Regions from separate parts of the Homo sapiens genome. Here region 1 is linked to region 2. Evidence: fine-mapped expression QTL. Tissue or cell type: whole blood. Region 2 holds a variant in brackets; the other region holds the start of a gene. All regions are shown on one strand. Distances are from middle to middle.

Region 1 (8,181 bases), 35 kb after region 2:
CCAGAGGTGGCTGTGCACAGGCTTCAGATCTTGCAGCAAAAATGCCCACAGCATCACTGAAGCCCTAAGAATTAGTCCTATCTCTGAGAATTTGCAAAGCTGCGCTCAATAGTGCAGCTGAGCAGAGCCCCCACTTGGTGAAAAGTGGTAAAGCACTCCTCCTGAAAAGCCCAGTAGGAAATCCCCACACATTTAAAAAAACAACAACAAAATCCATAATACAACCAAAGAGAGGAAAGATGACTTTTACATTTTATCTAACTGAAAAAGAAAAGGCACTTTTTATCCTCCTGATTCCACTGTAACCCCTGACCATGATTACATTAAAAATTATTCCCTTAAAGCAAATAGCAAGTAAACAGCCCAGGGTGGCATAAAAAGGCTTTGATACAGCATAGCAATTTGGATATGTCTTCAGCCTAGGTGTAGTGGGCTTCTACCTGTAGTATATTTCTACAGTCTACGTTCTAACTTGGCCCTGCAAATTGTAGAACTGAGGACATTTAGTTCTTAAAAATAAACCTGCTTTCTGGGGGCCTTACCCCCCCCCCATTATTTATTAATCTAACTCTTCTGCTTTTTAAACAACTTCCTCTGCAGGTGGAATAAGCCCAAGAATCCCAGATTTTGAGTCCTCTGTGGCACACAGGTTCTCCCTAGCACAGGGGCCATGCCTGGAGATACTTTTCTAGGGAATAGTTGCCAGCTAGCGCTACTATTAGGTTGGGGCAAAAGTAATTGCGGTTTTTGCCATTGCTTTCAATTGAAGCAGTGGCACGATCTCGGCTCACTGCAACCTCTGACTCCAGGGTTCAAGTGATTCTCGTGCCTCAGCCTCCTGAGTAGCTGAGGTTACAGGCACAAACCACTATGCCTGGCTAATTTTTGTATTTTTAGTAGAGAGAGGGTTTCACCATGTTGGCCAGGCTGGTTTTGAACTCCTGACCTCAGGTGATACACTCACCTTGGCCTCCCAAAGTGTTGGGATTACAGGTGTGAACCACTGCGCCCGGCCCACACAATCTTACTTAATTCTCATAACAATTCTCATTGCTTTCAATTGAAAGCAATGGCAAAAACCACAATTACTTTAATACAATCTCTACTCTCTACTTGGGGGTTCCCAAATATTCAGACAGCATCATTCAGCTGAAGAGACATCCAGTGACTGACAGCTGGCCTTTCATCCAACTGTTTGGGATTATGTAGACACAGTCCCCATTGGGCCCTTTTTGTGAATAGGAGTGACCCTTTATCTCAACCACTGTGGAATGTAGCTGACCTCAACTTTTCTGATATCCAGCTTCCTCAGTGGGAGTTAACACCAAAATACAAGAAAGTACTTGGAAAACTGCCTAACCATTAAAAGTCTGATGGCCTCATCTCTAGATAGTTGACTCTCCAGGTTGGAGGCTGTTCGAGGTTTATTTTACACAAAGAACCCCCAGAAGAGGGCACACACCAGTGAGAAGTACCACGTGCCTCAGGTCTTCACAGCCAGGAGGACCTTGAACCACACACACATCCTGCAACGGTCCAAACAGAGCCAGCCTAAGGAGGTGATGAGATGAGGCTGCCTTGCCTGGGCCCCCTGAGATGGCCCTTGTGAGAAGAATCCCCCATGACCCAGTGTCTCATTTAAATTACCTCATGTGAACTGCTCAAGCGTATCAGGCAGCCTCAGTAATAATAACAGATGCATACTGTGTGCCACGCACTGCTCTCTCCGAATGCCATACAGAGTCTGAAGGAGGTGTTGTCCCCCATTCACAGATGAGGAGCCTGAGGCACCACAAGTAAATCCCTCAGGCCACAGAGCAGAGCCAGGATTTGCCCCCAGGCAGTCAGATCTAGATAGAGCCTGTGCTCTTAACCTTTTGCTTTACAAACTCTCAAACAGGTGTAATATTTTTGCTTTTATATATTCTTATCTTATACTTAATAATTGTATTTATATATTTATTCATTTATAAACATGTTTGTTATATGTTTATATTTTTAACATAGTTTATACAGATTTATATATTTTATATATTTTTTATACATCCATTTAATAAACTAGCATTAACTGAGCACCTACCATATGCAAGTACTATGCTAAATATCTAAATACTAAGGAACAGCGACAAGTAAACCTATTATTATACGGATGGGAACGGAAAAGAGAACTAGCAGTGAATAAGCATCTGCTATGTACGGAGAAGTCTGCTAAAGTCTTCACCCACACTATCTTACCTTTTTTTGTTTTGTTTTTGTTTTTGTTTTTGTTTTTTTTGAGTCTTGCTCTGTTGCCCAGGCTGGAGTGCAGTGGCACGATCTCGGCTCACTGCAACCTCTGATTCCAGGGTTCAAGCGATTCTCGTGCCTCAGCCTCCTGAGTAGCTGAGGTTACAGGCACGTACCACCACGCCCGACTAATTTTTGTATTTTTAGTAGAGAGAGGGTTTCATCATGTTGGCCAGGCTGGTTTCGAACTCCTGACCTCAGGTGATACACCCACCTTGGCCTCCCGAAGTGTTGGGATTACAGGTGTGAACCACCGCACCCGGCCCACACCATCTTACTTAATTCTCATAACAATCCTATGAAGCAGATCCTATGAAGAAGCTTTTCCAGATAAGGAAACGGAGGATCCCAGACTCTAACCTGCAAAACAACTATGTACAGATTAACATCGAGTACCTTCAACTTTTCTCAGATAGAGAAGGCCCGGGACAGCAAGTGGAGGCTGGCTTCTCTGGGAGGGAGCAGGTACAGAGAGGTGGGGACAGCACCCAAGATTCTGCTTGGCGATGTTCTCGCAGCATCTGTAACTTTGATCTGCCTTCTCATTCTCTGCACAAACGCATGCAAGATCACATAGGAGGGAAAAAGGAGAAGGCTTGAGTTGGATCATCCACACCAAAGTCCAGAGCACTAGGGAGCCAGCCTGTCTGGGTCCAAATCCTGTCTCTCCCTCTTTCTTGGAGCATGCCCCCTGAGCAATTACTCAGTCTTTCTGTGCCCCAGTTTCCTCTTCTGTAAAGTGGGAATAAGTGTGCCCATTCAAGTTGACTCCTGTGAGGATTAAACAAGTGCAAATTAAAGCACTTAGAACAGTGCCTCTCACACTTCAGGCGCTTGCGGAGAGGGGATGCTTCAGTCTGACAGAAGTCGCTAAACGTGCATCCTGGCAGAACTGTGCCAGCCCTTCATTCTAAAGGGCAGGAGGTGGCCTCAGAAGTGAGAGGTCCGAGATGCCTGGGCGTGGGCTCAGAAGCCCCAGGTCTGAGCCTGCGCGCCCACTTGACCCACCGCCATCTCCTTTTGCCGCCCCCAGGCCAGGGACCTGATTCCTGCGTGAAGAAAAGAGAAAATAAGGGTGGGCCTCCTAATGCCGCAGAGACTCCGTCTGAGAACCCAGCAACTAGTTTTATTTTTGTATATTTAGATCAACAAACGAAGAGGGTTTCCGGTTCCTTGTTGGGGGAGCACCGTAGCTACCTGCGGCCAAGCCTCGTAGCCGTCTCCTCTCCCGTCCTCTCTCTGCCTGCAGGAGCCACGGGCCCGCAGCCCGCAATCAAGTCCCACAGAGCGGAGATCTGCACGAGAGGCTTGGGGATGGGAGGGCCATGTCGCGGGGGCCTCACCGGTCTCCCCAGAAGCGGGGAGTCCCGAGTTGGAATCCCGGCTTGGCCCTTCCCTCTGTGTGCGTCCTCGGGCAAATCACCCAGCATCCCTAAGCCACAGTTTGCCCGCTGGTAAAATGGGCGTCACACTCCCTGCCTCTCCCGGAGGAGAGAGGCTGACGCGGACATCGCACCAGGCACTGCGCCAGAGCGCGCGCCCAGGTGCGGGGTCTTGGGGCTCAGGCGCAGCAGCCGGGCCCGCAGCTGCTGGCGTCATCGCGGAGGGCGGGGCCGCGGGGCGGTGCTCGGGGCCGGGGACGGCTGCTGGAGCGGCGCCCGCCGCGGCTCAGCGCATTCCCGCTCTCCGCTTCCCTCTCCGCTGCGTCCCCGCGCGAAGATGGCAACCGAGGGGCTGCACGAGAACGAGACGCTGGCGTCGCTGAAGAGCGAGGCCGAGAGCCTCAAGGGCAAGCTGGAGGAGGAGCGAGCCAAGCTGCACGATGTGGAGCGTGAGTGCGGGCCGGGAGGCGGGCGGGGCAAGCCGGACCGGCTCGCCACTTCCCGGGCGGGGACGGCGGGGGCGGTGGGGGCGGTCGTGGCTGCGACGGGAGCCAGGCCCGCGCCACCGCCCGGGAGCAGGGCCCTGGGGCCCGGGCGCGCAGGTGAGGCGCGGGTAGCGGTCCCGATCCCCGGGACGCGCGGCGGTGGGGCCCTCGGAGGGTCCGGGCACCTGGCCGACCCCCGCCGCCAGCTAGCGGAGGACCGCGGGACTAGCTATCCTCATCACCTGCCTGGAAGCTGCGAACGGATCGCGTTCTTGCCCCTCCCATGCGGAGGGCAGGGGGTGGGGTGTCGGTGGTGACGAGCGAGCGCGGCGAGCCCGTGTAGGCGCGGCCTAGGAGAGACTCCTGTTTTGTTTTTTAATGCCCGTCTGGCTTTCTCCATCACTGTTGTATCTTTTCTCAGTTTTGCTTTTATGAGACTGCAATTTCAAAGCTCATTTTTCCAACCTCTCCCCTATCCTTGGGGCGGGGAGCTGGATGACGGAGAGAGAAGGGAAACGGAGGAGCTCACTAAATTCAACCGTTCAGTTCGTTTAAGGCTGTTTAAAAAGCTTTTGGATCGATGTGGTGGATTGGCATAAAAAAGCCATAGCGATCTTAAACTTGCATTCTTCACCACCACCACCGTAATTCAGAACTGGCTCTGTGATTTTTATGAGTGAGCGATTAAATAGCCAGGTTCAGCGGCTCTTGGCCAAAACAGCGTTCCTTTACTTTGTCAGAGGGCTCCTCCTCAGCAGAGCTTGGGCTGGGGGCCAGGCTTGGGGAAGTGGTTGTATCTGCTCACTTTTGAGCTCTGAGGGTGGCATCTCCCCTTTGCTGAGCACCTCCCACGGTGCCCTCCTGCACACCTTGACGTTGTTCTCCTGCCATTCCTAATCGATGCCACCCTTTACATTCTATGTGGAATGGAAAAATGGGGTTCGTGCTAGGGCCTTTACCTTTTGATCTCTGAAGATCACTTAAGAGAAGTGGATGACCTGGATCTAGCGTGTGCTGTGCTTTCCTAGGGGTCTTCTTTAAATAGGAGGCACTCTAAGCTTAGAAATCCTGTCCAGCAATCACTAACTGTAAACCCCAAATAATGTAGTTATGCAAATTGAGAGTTACTTTTCTTACATAACAAGAGCAAAGGTGGATGATCACCTGCTGTTGTTCAGCTGCACCATGCACCCCCCACCAAGGGACCCAGGCTCCTTCTGCCTTTCTTCTCCACACCTTAGAGCAGTGGCATTTGCCCCATGATTATAATATGATTGCCACAGCTCCAAACATCACTTCTGTATCCAAGGCAGGAAGAAGGGGGAATATGGACACCAATCTCTCTTTGCTCCCTATCAAGAAAGCAAAGCAAAAGTTTTCCCAGAAATCCTTCTCCCAGTTTGAGACCAGCCTGGCCAACATGGTGAAAAGTATTCATAGGTCATCTAATTTCTCCATTTGACAGATGAGGAAACTGAGGCACAAAGAATTAAAGGACTTACCGAAGGTCCCCTGCTAAGTGTTGGGACCCGGATTCCCCCCAGGCAATCAGAGTGCCAGCTCAGGCTCACTTCAGATTATTTTCGCCAAACCCGTTTTGAGCTTCATGCAGAGGGCGTTCTCCAGAAACTCACTTATTCAATAGTGCAGGCTGCATGCCTGGATATTTTCAGGTTTTCTGTGAATTTGTAAGTTGCCTTAAGACAGAGAGCAGAGATGCAGCTTTTCAAAGGGAACCTCAGGGGGCAAATGTAGTCAATCCAAAAGAAGAAACTTTTTTTTGTCCTGCCAAGAGTGTGGTGCCCTCAAAAGCTAGGGCCAGATTTTAGACCCACAGTGGAAGGGTCTATCCCTACCTGCATATGTCAGAATTTGTGAGCTGGAAAGACCAGAAGTCATGTGGTTGTGTCCCTCTTGATTCCCCTGCAGCTTCCAGACCACTTCTCTTCTACCCCGCATAAAGCCTTTGCTTCTTGAAGGTTCTTATCACTGTATTGACCTCTTCCCCTTTGACATGTCTCCTGATCTCCCAGCCAGGTTCTCTCATTTCTCTACTTTTCTTTTCTTTTTTTTTTTTTTTTGACACGGAGTCTCCCTCTGTCACCCAGGCTGGAGTACAATGGCACAGTCTTGGCTTACTGCAACCTCCACCTCCCAGGTTCAAGTGTTTCTCCTGCCTCAGCCTCCCAAGTAGCTGGGACTATAGGCATGTGCCACCACACCCAAGTAATTTTTGTATTTTTAGTAGGCTTCACCATGTTGGCCAGGCTGGTCTCGAACTCCTGACCTCAAGTGATCTGCCCGCCTGAGCCTCCAAAAGTACTGGGATTACAGGTGTGAGCCACCGCACTCAGCCATTCTTTTCTTTATTCATCTTTATTTTTAAGAGACAGGGTCTCGGACCGACAGGGTGGCTCACGCCTGTAATCCCAGCACTTTGGGAGGCCAAGGCGGGTGGATCATGAGGTCAGGAGATTGAGACCATCCTGGCCAACATGGTGAAACCCCGTCTCTACTAAAAATACAAAAATTAGTTGGGCATGGTGGCAGGTGCCTGTAATCTCAGCTACTTGGGAGGCTGAGGCAGGAGAATAGCTTAAACCAGGGAGTTGGAGGTTGCAGTGAGCCGAGATCTTGCCACTGCACTCCAGCCTGGGCGACAGAGCGAGACTCCGTCTCAAAAAAAAAAAAAAAAAAAAAAAAGGAGGAGCTAGGCAGAGGCCCCAGGAGGGGGTGTGTTTGGTGTATCTGATGTATCTGAGGAAGAGTGAGGAGGCAGGTGTGTCTGGAGGGGAGTATGCAGGGCAGAGTCCAGCTGCAGGTTATGCTGGGAGCTCATGCAGGACCCCATGGGTGCAGTGAAGATTTGGGCTCTTACTCCCAGTGAGTTGGGAAACCCTTGGAGGGTTTTGAGAGAGAGGATGGATCTGATTGCTTTACTGGGCTCACTCTGCCTGCCATGTTTTGTGGCAGAACAAGACAGCTTGAGGGAGGGAAATGAAGTGTGAGAGGTAAGTGACCTGGGGTAAGAGTTCTTGACAAATGTCTCTTTCCCTCTTATCAGAGAGCCTACCTTGCGTGCCACTTGCCAGCTCCTAATGGAAGTTACAGCTGAAGGTGGAAGAGCGAGAGATGATTTCTGAGCTTGTCTTGGTCCCATAGTTGACCCTGCAGCCGCTCTTACCTTACCCCAGCCCAGACTCGCCCAGCTCCTTCCTAAGTGTGTTTGTCCCTTGGCACTCAGGTGGGAAAGGGAGGAAAGGATGCTGATGAGTTTTACTTGTGGAAGTATAAGCTAGAGCCCTGCCAGGTGCAAACAACAGTGCTGTCATTTTTCCCTGTATGAAGGAAAGTGGTATCATCCCCATCTGTGCGATGAGCGAGCAGGCTTAGCAAAGTCGAATAATTCCTTCAGGGTCATGCAGCTGGTTAGTGATTGGGCCAGGATTCAGTTTAGGAATGATGCAGCTTTCTTTGCAGGGCTCCCCATTGAGCAAGTGGCTGAGAGCCTGGGGGAAGGTGGGAAGGGTCTGGTGAGGCTGGGGAGGACCATAAACTGAATCTGTTCACTCCCCAGAGCAGGGGCTGGCAGCATGCACTTTCCTGTATCTCTTATGGTGACTGGCAGCCCCTTAGTTAACAGATGTTTTTGTTTGTTTGTTTGTTTTGTTTTGTTTTTTTTTGAGATGGAGTCTGGCTCTGTTGCCCAGGCTGGAGTGCAATGGCATGATCTCAGCTCGCTACAACCTCCACCTCCTGGGTTCAAGCAGTTCTCCTGCCTCAGCCTCCTGAGTAGCTGGGATTACAGGCACATGCCATCACACCTGGCTAATTTTTGTATTTTTAGTAGAGACAGAGTTTCACTGTGTTAACCAGGCTGGTCTCGAACTCCTGACCTTGTGATCCGTCCACCTTGGCCTCCCAAAGTGCTGGGATTACAGGTGTGACCCACTGCGCCTGGCCGTTTTTTGTTTGTTTGTTTGTTTGTTTTTTGAGACGGAGTCTCACTCTGTCGCCCAGGCTAGAGT
Region 2 (8,169 bases):
TCCATGGACAGTTTTCTATCCCAGCCAGTCCTGGTCTCTTTTCTTTCCCCTGGAAGGACACCCCTATTCGAATACTATTTGCTTTACACAGAAATTGGCCAAGGTGTTCTTCCATCTTTGGAAATATCAGCACTTGCTATGACAGTGAGTGACTTCTCCATGACCGTCATACTGATACCAGCCATTCCTCCCTCCCTTTCTCAGGGCCTTGGAAGCCCAAAATGAAATACATACCAAAGAGAAGGAGAAGCTGATTGATAAGATTCAAGAAATGCAGGAGGCCAGTGACCACTTGAAGAAACAATTTGAAACTGAAAGTGAAGTCAAGTGTAACTTCCGGCAGGAAGCATCCCGGCTCACTTTGGAAAACAGGGTGAGAAGTCTTCTAACTTGGTGATAAAGACTGTCTGTGTGCAGATGTTGCTGAAAGGGGGGACATGCCACCTAAAGCATATGATTAACATCTATAGACCAAAAGTCCTTCCATCAGAGCAGTCTGTTTTCTTATCCCAAAAGACAGGTGGTCTCTGAGGTTGGCTTTGGGAAGGCCTTGGGGACTTACAGGCCCGCCTGGGGAGGGTGAAGGAGGAGAGACAGAGAGGTGCAGGCCGTAGTTCCCCAGCACTATCAGTGCACGGCACCACCCAGGATGGAGTCACTGTGCTCTGGAACACACTGAGGATAGCAAGGCCTACGTGTGAGTGCTTTACCCAGCAAAACTCACCCCATATAAGTGCCCATGCTTTCTTCTGGGGGTATGGCCTTCCTACAATTTTTAGAGTCAAAATGTTCTTCTATGAAATGATCATGATGTCGATGGAAGGCTTAAAAACTTTTTAAAAGTGTTTAAGGTCTTTTCTGAGTTTTAAATGCCCTTACCAAAATGAAATCGGGTAACCTTACATCAATTCCCAGCAATTATTTTGAAATTGTGATGCTGTGTGGAACCCAGAAGACTGAGAAGTGCTGAAGTGACAGGCCACTTTCCTAGGAGCTGGGACCCTCTCGGGCCCCTTCGAAACCTGAGAGCTTCCAGCTTCCAAGAGGGTAACGCAGGAGGGCTGACGAGTCCAGTGGGTCAGTGTGGACATGCCCACGTACCCTTCTCCCTGCTGACAGGGCCCCCATTTCCAATCTCACAGGAAAACCTTGATAGAGGAAAAACATATTTTGAGTGTCAGGGTTTAACTTTGAAGAGTGGTTACATCCAAAAAGAGAAATTCCAGGAGTTTGACATTTAATAGGAAGTAACAAATTCCAATCAGTGACACCTACATGACAGCTGCCTTTTCTGAGGTGGATACAACTTTCTCAGAGACTGGAATCCTCGTGTTACAACAGAGAAGCAACCGCCTGTTGTCCATGTGTGAGGCTGCCTTGCCTTGCCTTGCCTCCTGTGGGCCCCTGGGATCTCAATGGAGTCAGCGGTCAGGGAGAAGCTACATGGGTGGGTCATGTGTGTGCTGCGCATGTCATCCCATGTGATCCTTTACTCTGACTGTCCCTGTGCATTGTGACGGATTTATGAGTTCGTTCCTGGTGCCCTGGAGCACAGCTCGGTCCTGGCGCCCTCTTCTGGAGCTCCTCCAAGTGTCTGGCTCTGCTCCCCACAGGTGCGCTGAGCTAAGGAGCTGGCAGGCCTGACATGCTCATTTCAATAGCTCTTTCTGAACCCGGAGTAGCCTCACTGTTACATAGAAGCAGACGGACACACAACAAGAGTATCATCTCTATACATTAGCCGGCGGATTCTACCCACAAATGAGACCTGATCTGTATTAGTTTGCCAGGGCTGCTGTAACAAATGACCACAAACCAGGTGCTTTAAAACAACAGAAATGTGTTCTCTCAATTATGGAGGTCAGAAGTCTGAAGTCAAGGTGTCAGCAGGGCACACTCCTCCGAAGTCTCTAAGGAAAACCCTTCCTTGCCTCTCCCAGCTTCTAGAGGGCTCCAGGCATTCCTTGGTTTGGAACAGTGTAACTCCAGCCTCTGCCTCTCTGCACCTGGCCTTCTCCCTGTCTCTGTGTTCTTTTCCATCTGTTATAAGGACACCTGCATTGGATTTACAGCCCACCCTAAATTGTAGTAGCCACCTCTCATACTGACCCTTAGCTTACCACAGCTGCAAAGACCCTATTTCCATATAAAGGCACATTCTGGAGTTTGGGTTGGACATGAATTTCAAGGTGACACTGTTCAAACCACTATGTGATGCTTTGAGTCAAAGAAATTTCTTTTTTTTTTCCAGACTCTTTTGTCACTGAATTCTTATTAAGAGATTAAAAAAAAACTTTTAGTAATCATTTCACTATTTATCAAAGAAATTCAAAATCAAAACTAGGTACTATTTTTGCCTGTCAAATTAACAGAGACCTGGGCCTGGCACAGTGGCTCATGCCTGTAATCCCAGCACTTTAAGATGTCATGGCAGAAGTATGACTTGAGGCCAGGAGTTCAACCAGCCAGGGCAACGTAGTGAGACCCCATCTCTACAAGGAAAACTTTAAAAATATATATATAGTGGTGCATGCCTGTAGCTCTGGCTACTCAGGAGGCTGAGGCAAGAGGACTGCTTGAGCCCAGGAGATTGAGGCTGCAGTGAGCTATGATCACACTACTGCACTCCAGCCTGGATGACAGAGCAAAATCCTGTCTCTAAAAATACTACTACTAATAATAATAATAATTAATAGAGATCTTATGCTGCTGGAGAGAACATCTTGAAATGGGCACTGTCATACATGGTTGCTGGGAATATAAATTGGTATAAACTTTCTTGAGGGCTTATTTGAAGGTATGGATCATGAACCTTTGGAAAGTACATTCCCTTTGACTCAGTAACACAACTTGTAAGGTTCTATCCTAAGTAAATACTTGAACATGTGGACGAGATTTTTGTTCAGAGTGATCATCTTAGTGTTATTAATCATAGAGAAAAAAAGCAACCCAAAGGAGAGAAATGCATACCTAACAATAGAGCAAAGGTTAAATTGTTGTATGATATAATATGACTTGGCTGTTAAAATGATGGTTTGAGTATATTATCAATGACATGGGAAAACGTCTGCAGTATAACTAGAGAAAAATGTAGGATTTGAAATTTTGCATGTAATATGATCCCAATTTTATAAAATGTACATTTACCATATTGGGAAAAAAGGAATGAAATCAAAATGTGAAGAGTGGTTTTTTTCTGGGTTATGGGTTGATGGGTGACCCATTTTATTAGATATATTATAAGATGGGCTTGAATTGGAGGGAGGAAGCTGTACTGACACCGCCACTTCTAAGGTCAATAGAGTTCCTAACATGTCTAGCCAGGGACACAGAATGGTGGCAGGGAGAGAGGTGGC[C/T]GCACAGAGTAGAAACAGCACAATGTCCCTCGGCCCCAAGAGTCCCTAGAGGGCACACAGCTGCAGTGACCCTGCATGGTGGGTCTTTCTGGGTCAGAGAAGCCTGAATTCTATATGTGTCAAATGCTCAGATGTGGAAGAACTTAAACACTATGTCCTTTATAGGAAATATTTCTAGGTATCCAAGGACTCTTCTGGTTCTTGAGCCAAATTCAGCATGGGCAAGGCCACCTACTTATCAGGAAAGAAAGGCAAAACCAGGCCCAAATCTCTGAACATTTCTCTAGCTCCAGCTTCTGAAATCTAGAAAGCCCATTTTCCCACATTCATATTTTTAAATTCTCTATGATGGGCACTCCTATGTAATAAGAGCAAGATAAATGTAGTATATGCATACAATAGGATATTATTCAGCCATACGAATATATGAAATGCTGATACATGCTACGACATGGATGAATTTTGAAAACCTTATGCTAAGTGAAAGAAGCCAGACACACACACAAAAAACCTATTCTATGAATTTATTTATATGAGATGTCCAGAATAGGCAAATCCATAGAGACAGAAAGTAGATGAGTGGTTGCCAGGTGCTGGAAGGTAATGAGAAACTAGAGAGTGACACTAAAGGTCAGTTTTATTTTTGGAGTAATAAAATGTTCTGGAATTAAATAATGATGATTGTAGCACAACTCTGACTACACTAAAAAACCTTTGAGTTTACACTTTAAATGGGTGAGTTGTACGGTATGCAAATTGTATGTCAATAAAGCTGTTACCCAAAAAAAAAAAAAATAGATTAAAGTGCTTCTAAGCTAAATCCTGGTTTCTTTTTATTGCTGTAGGATCTTGAAGAAGAATTAGACATGAAAGACAGAGTGATTAAAAAGCTACAAGATCAAGTCAAGACACTAAGCAAGACAATTGGAAAAGGTAAGAAACAATACTTGTTTTCTTATTCTTTTGAGCTAAGGCTAACATGCGCTCAAGTGTTTATTTTCTTTCTGGTCCAAAGCTTATGAAACCCAAAGGAATGATTCTCAAGTGGTGAGGTTTGTGACCTAGTGCTGGGCTAACGAAAGGATCCTTTGGGTCAGGAAGACAGCTCCCTCCCACTCAGATGATACCAGATACATTCATGTACTCGCAAGAGACATCCTATAATTAACACATTAACCTCTTCCTCTGTTAGCTCCCTTTTTTAAAAAATGAAATTGTGAACAATTTTTCAATTTACTGCTTTGAAATTCACCTTCTCTCCCTGTTACATATGTAGGATCAGTAAGTATCCAAATTTCTATTAGAAAAGTAGAGAGCTAAGAAGCAGACATCCTGAACATGGACTGCATGGCACACATAAAGCATCCTCGTGAGCCTCTGTGAAAGGGACCCTCCTCCCTTCTTCCCTCCTTCTGCTTCTGTCACTGAACTTTTCTGTGTTCAGCTCCTGCTCACATTTCTCACTCTTTCATTCTTTATTACCTTTTCCCCTTCCTCCCAGCCTTACTGCCAAGGCTGTATCTTGTTTCTTTTTCTATATTCATCTCTTTGAAGAGCAGCTTTATTCTTACTTATCCAACTCTCACCTCAAATTTGAAATGTCCACAAGCAAACTGAGGATCCCTTTCCTTCAGTAATAAATGACAAATGGCAGTCTGCCCCATGAGAGCAGGGCCCAGGTCTGTGCTTCCCAGCCCCCGCTGCATCCCCACTGCTGGGATGAATGAATGAACCATCATTCACCACCCTGGCTCACCTTTCAGACTTCTGACCTCCAGAGCTGTATGATTAAACATTTGTGTTGTTTTAAGCCTCTATGTTTGTGATAACTTTACAGCAGCCACAGGAAACTAATACAGCTGTCTCAGTAAGGATCATGCACATTGGTATTTTGCACACCAAATGTTTCACAAGTCTTCTTTCACAGTAGCATTGGCATCTTGAAGACAAGGCAACATCTTGGATTTCTTTCCTGTTACCATGTGCTGGATACATATCAGGCACTCATAAGGCTCTTCAAAGGATAATTGGGCCTTTTCAGCAGCAGCTGTACTCACTGATGTACTCATAAAGAGGAATCACTACTTGGAGAAATTCTTCAGGATACAATACAGTACAGTTTTAATGTATCTGAAAGCCACAGACATTTACGTGCAAACCAGCCAGAATGGGGTAGGAGAGTAGTCACATTGTGAGACCTGTGAAAGCTGCTTTTGTGTATTTAGCTGATTGTTTGCCTCTGTCTACAGCCAATGATGTGCACTCGTCCTCAGGACCCAAGGAGTACCTTGGAATGCTGCAATACAAGAGAGAAGACGAGGCCAAGCTCATTCAGAACCTCATTCTTGGTAGTGAAACCTGGAACTCTGGATTTTTGCTTTCTCTTTGAGAACTTGCATATCAGTCAGTGCCAAAGTCCTGGGCAGGGGTGGTCCTTTTTCTACTTTTTCTTCCACTGCTTCTTCCCCCAGCCCAGAGTTTCTCAACCTCAGCACTGTTGACCTGTTAACTCTGTGAATGGGGAGTAACAAAGGATGGAGCAGCATCCTTGACTTCTACTCACTAGAAGGCAGCAGCAACCCCTAGTGATGACAATAAAAGATATCTCCAGGTATTGCCGAATGTCCTGTGGGGGCCAAAACTGTCCTCAGTTGAGAACCACTGCCCTGACCTTTTCCAAATTGTAGGACCAGGGTAGAAGAGAAACATCACCTCATTTTTGTGTCTCAGCACAGGAGCCATCATGGAAGCAATTGTGGCTCTGTGCTCCATTTGACTTCTGAGAAATTTCTCTGCGGGCAATGTGATGGGGCTTCCCAGCCATGCCTCAGTTACAGGAATGTCCCATGTGCATGCTCAAGAGTTGGTGGTCATAGAACCAATCTTACTGCACTGTCTTCACTGTGACCTTCCACGTGGTTTTCTGGCATAGGGAGAAAAATCTGCCTCCCTGTCAGCTGGCCCCAAGATCTCAAAACAGAAAGCCAACGTGTAGCCTTCCTTCCTCTTCTGCGAGTGACCCCCTTGGCTCATATGAGCACCTCTACCCTTTTCTTTCCCCTCATCACTGGTGTCATGCAGTGTGAGCCTCTTCTTTGTTCTTCTGTCTTCCTGCAGCCAGGGGACATCCTTGTTTGCTTATCTTAACTTTTTTTGTAAGATTTCTCTCTCCCCTTCATCCCCACTGAGCGTTTCCACCATTCTGTTCTCCTCAAGGCCAGCCAGGCATCCTCTGCTGCACTGGGTGTGCCTGCTTTCCCTATTCAAGGCAGCTTCATGTGACTGTGGACACTGTACGCCATCCTCATCAAAGCGCTTGGAGTAGGGGTGCATGGAATGGAGTTTCTTTCTTACAATGGGGGTCTGAAATCCAGGGTTTCCACACCAGGGAAAAATAAAGATTCTGTCTCTTATTCAACCTTTTAAGAAAGAGAAAGTCCTTTGTAAACAAGAAGAGGAACAAGTGACACCTGTGTATCTTGTGCCAAGAAAGGAGCCAGATGGAATTCCTCAAAGAGGAAATAAATCCATATACATTCAGGCACTGTGTCAAGCACAGAAAAGCAAACAAGCCCCTGCCCCTAGTCACAAGTTCCTTAGGAGAAGAGCTGACCTGTCAGCTGTAATCCTCATTGGCTCTCTCTGCTTCAGACTTGAAGCCCCGTGGCGTGGTGGTGAACATGATCCCCGGGCTGCCGGCTCATATCCTGTTCATGTGTGTGCGCTACGCAGACTCTCTGAATGATGCCAACATGCTGAAGTCCCTCATGAACAGCACCATTAATGGCATCAAGCAGGTGGTTAAGGTAGGAAATGCCTTTGACATTGGCCCCTGGTATCACATCTATGGGAATGACCAGATGCCCAGTCTTTGCCCATCCTGAGCCTCCATTGTGTGGTGAGCCACATGATTCCTCAAACAAGTTTGAGGCCCAACTAGTGAAGGGAGCCACACTGTTAGGGAAAGATAAATGGATGAGCATCTGCCATAGGCCTCAAAGCCTTACCGGCGAGACTGCAACCTGGTAGCCACTGCCCCACCACTGCTATCCCCTTAGGGTGTAAAGTTATCAGCTGTGAGGGGTATAGGTTCTATCTCTGTAACAAGGGTAAATCATGAGAAATGAAATGGAGTGAAAAATTATTCATCTCTTCCCTTGGCAATTATATAATTCTTCTTCCTAAAAGCACATTGTGTATTTTTATTCCCAGTCCACAAATGAAGATGAACTGTGTATTAGTTAGGTTAGTTACTTAGTAAAGTTAAGCTATTGTAGCTATGAGACACCTGCCACCTCCCTTTGCCCAATATACAGTGTCTTAAAGAAGATGGAGGATTTTTCTTTGCTGATAGCGGTTCCATAATGAGCCATCTAGGTTGGAAGGTGGCTCTGTTCCACGTGATCATGAAGGGACCCAGGTTCCTTCCAACTTGCTGTTGGCCATTCCCTAAGTCGGTGTCCTTATTGGAATGACTGGACAAGCAGGCAGCCAGCAGTTTACCACTGGGCAAGAGGGAACCTACCATAGGACACAGACCATGTGTGTATGGTATACATATCAGAAGTCACCAACTGAACTCTTTATGAGCAATCATCTCTTCATGGTGTGACAAGTGGATAATGATCAAAAGTGACAATGACAAAGGGCGGGATTTTGTGAAGGCTAACAGTAACATAAAGTTTATTGCTAATTTCCTTTCCAACTGAAACATAATCCTAAAATCATTCTTAGCATACTGATTATTTTTCCTGGAAACTCCATAAGTGATCAATGAGTAAATAACTGTATCTAAGCATTGAAGATTTTTTTA

The links. PIP is the estimated chance that this variant, and not a neighbour inherited with it, causes the effect.
Region 1: CERNA1 starts here. The variant in region 2 is fine-mapped to the expression of CERNA1 in whole blood (TOPMed, PIP above 0.99).

Annotation. Positions count from the first base shown.
Region 1 is chr15:52,175,704-52,183,884 of GRCh38, reverse strand. CERNA1 (competing endogenous lncRNA 1 for miR-4707-5p and miR-4767) reads right to left here and starts at 3,859. Exons shown (of 3, transcript NR_102751.1): 1 at 3,484-3,859; 2 at 2,683-2,835. GNB5 (G protein subunit beta 5) reads left to right here. Exons shown (of 13, transcript NM_016194.4): 3 at 4,006-4,117. RefSeq lists enhancers at 3,329-3,418, 3,242-3,743 and a silencer at 3,789-4,448.
Region 2 is chr15:52,210,723-52,218,891 of GRCh38, reverse strand. It overlaps MYO5C (myosin VC), which reads left to right. Exons shown (of 41, transcript NM_018728.4): 32 at 205-373; 33 at 4,202-4,289; 34 at 5,606-5,704; 35 at 7,008-7,162. Among named protein-coding and RNA genes, the nearest start is that of GNB5, 23 kb to the right of the region's middle. The variant C/T (reference allele first, on the strand shown) is at 3,357.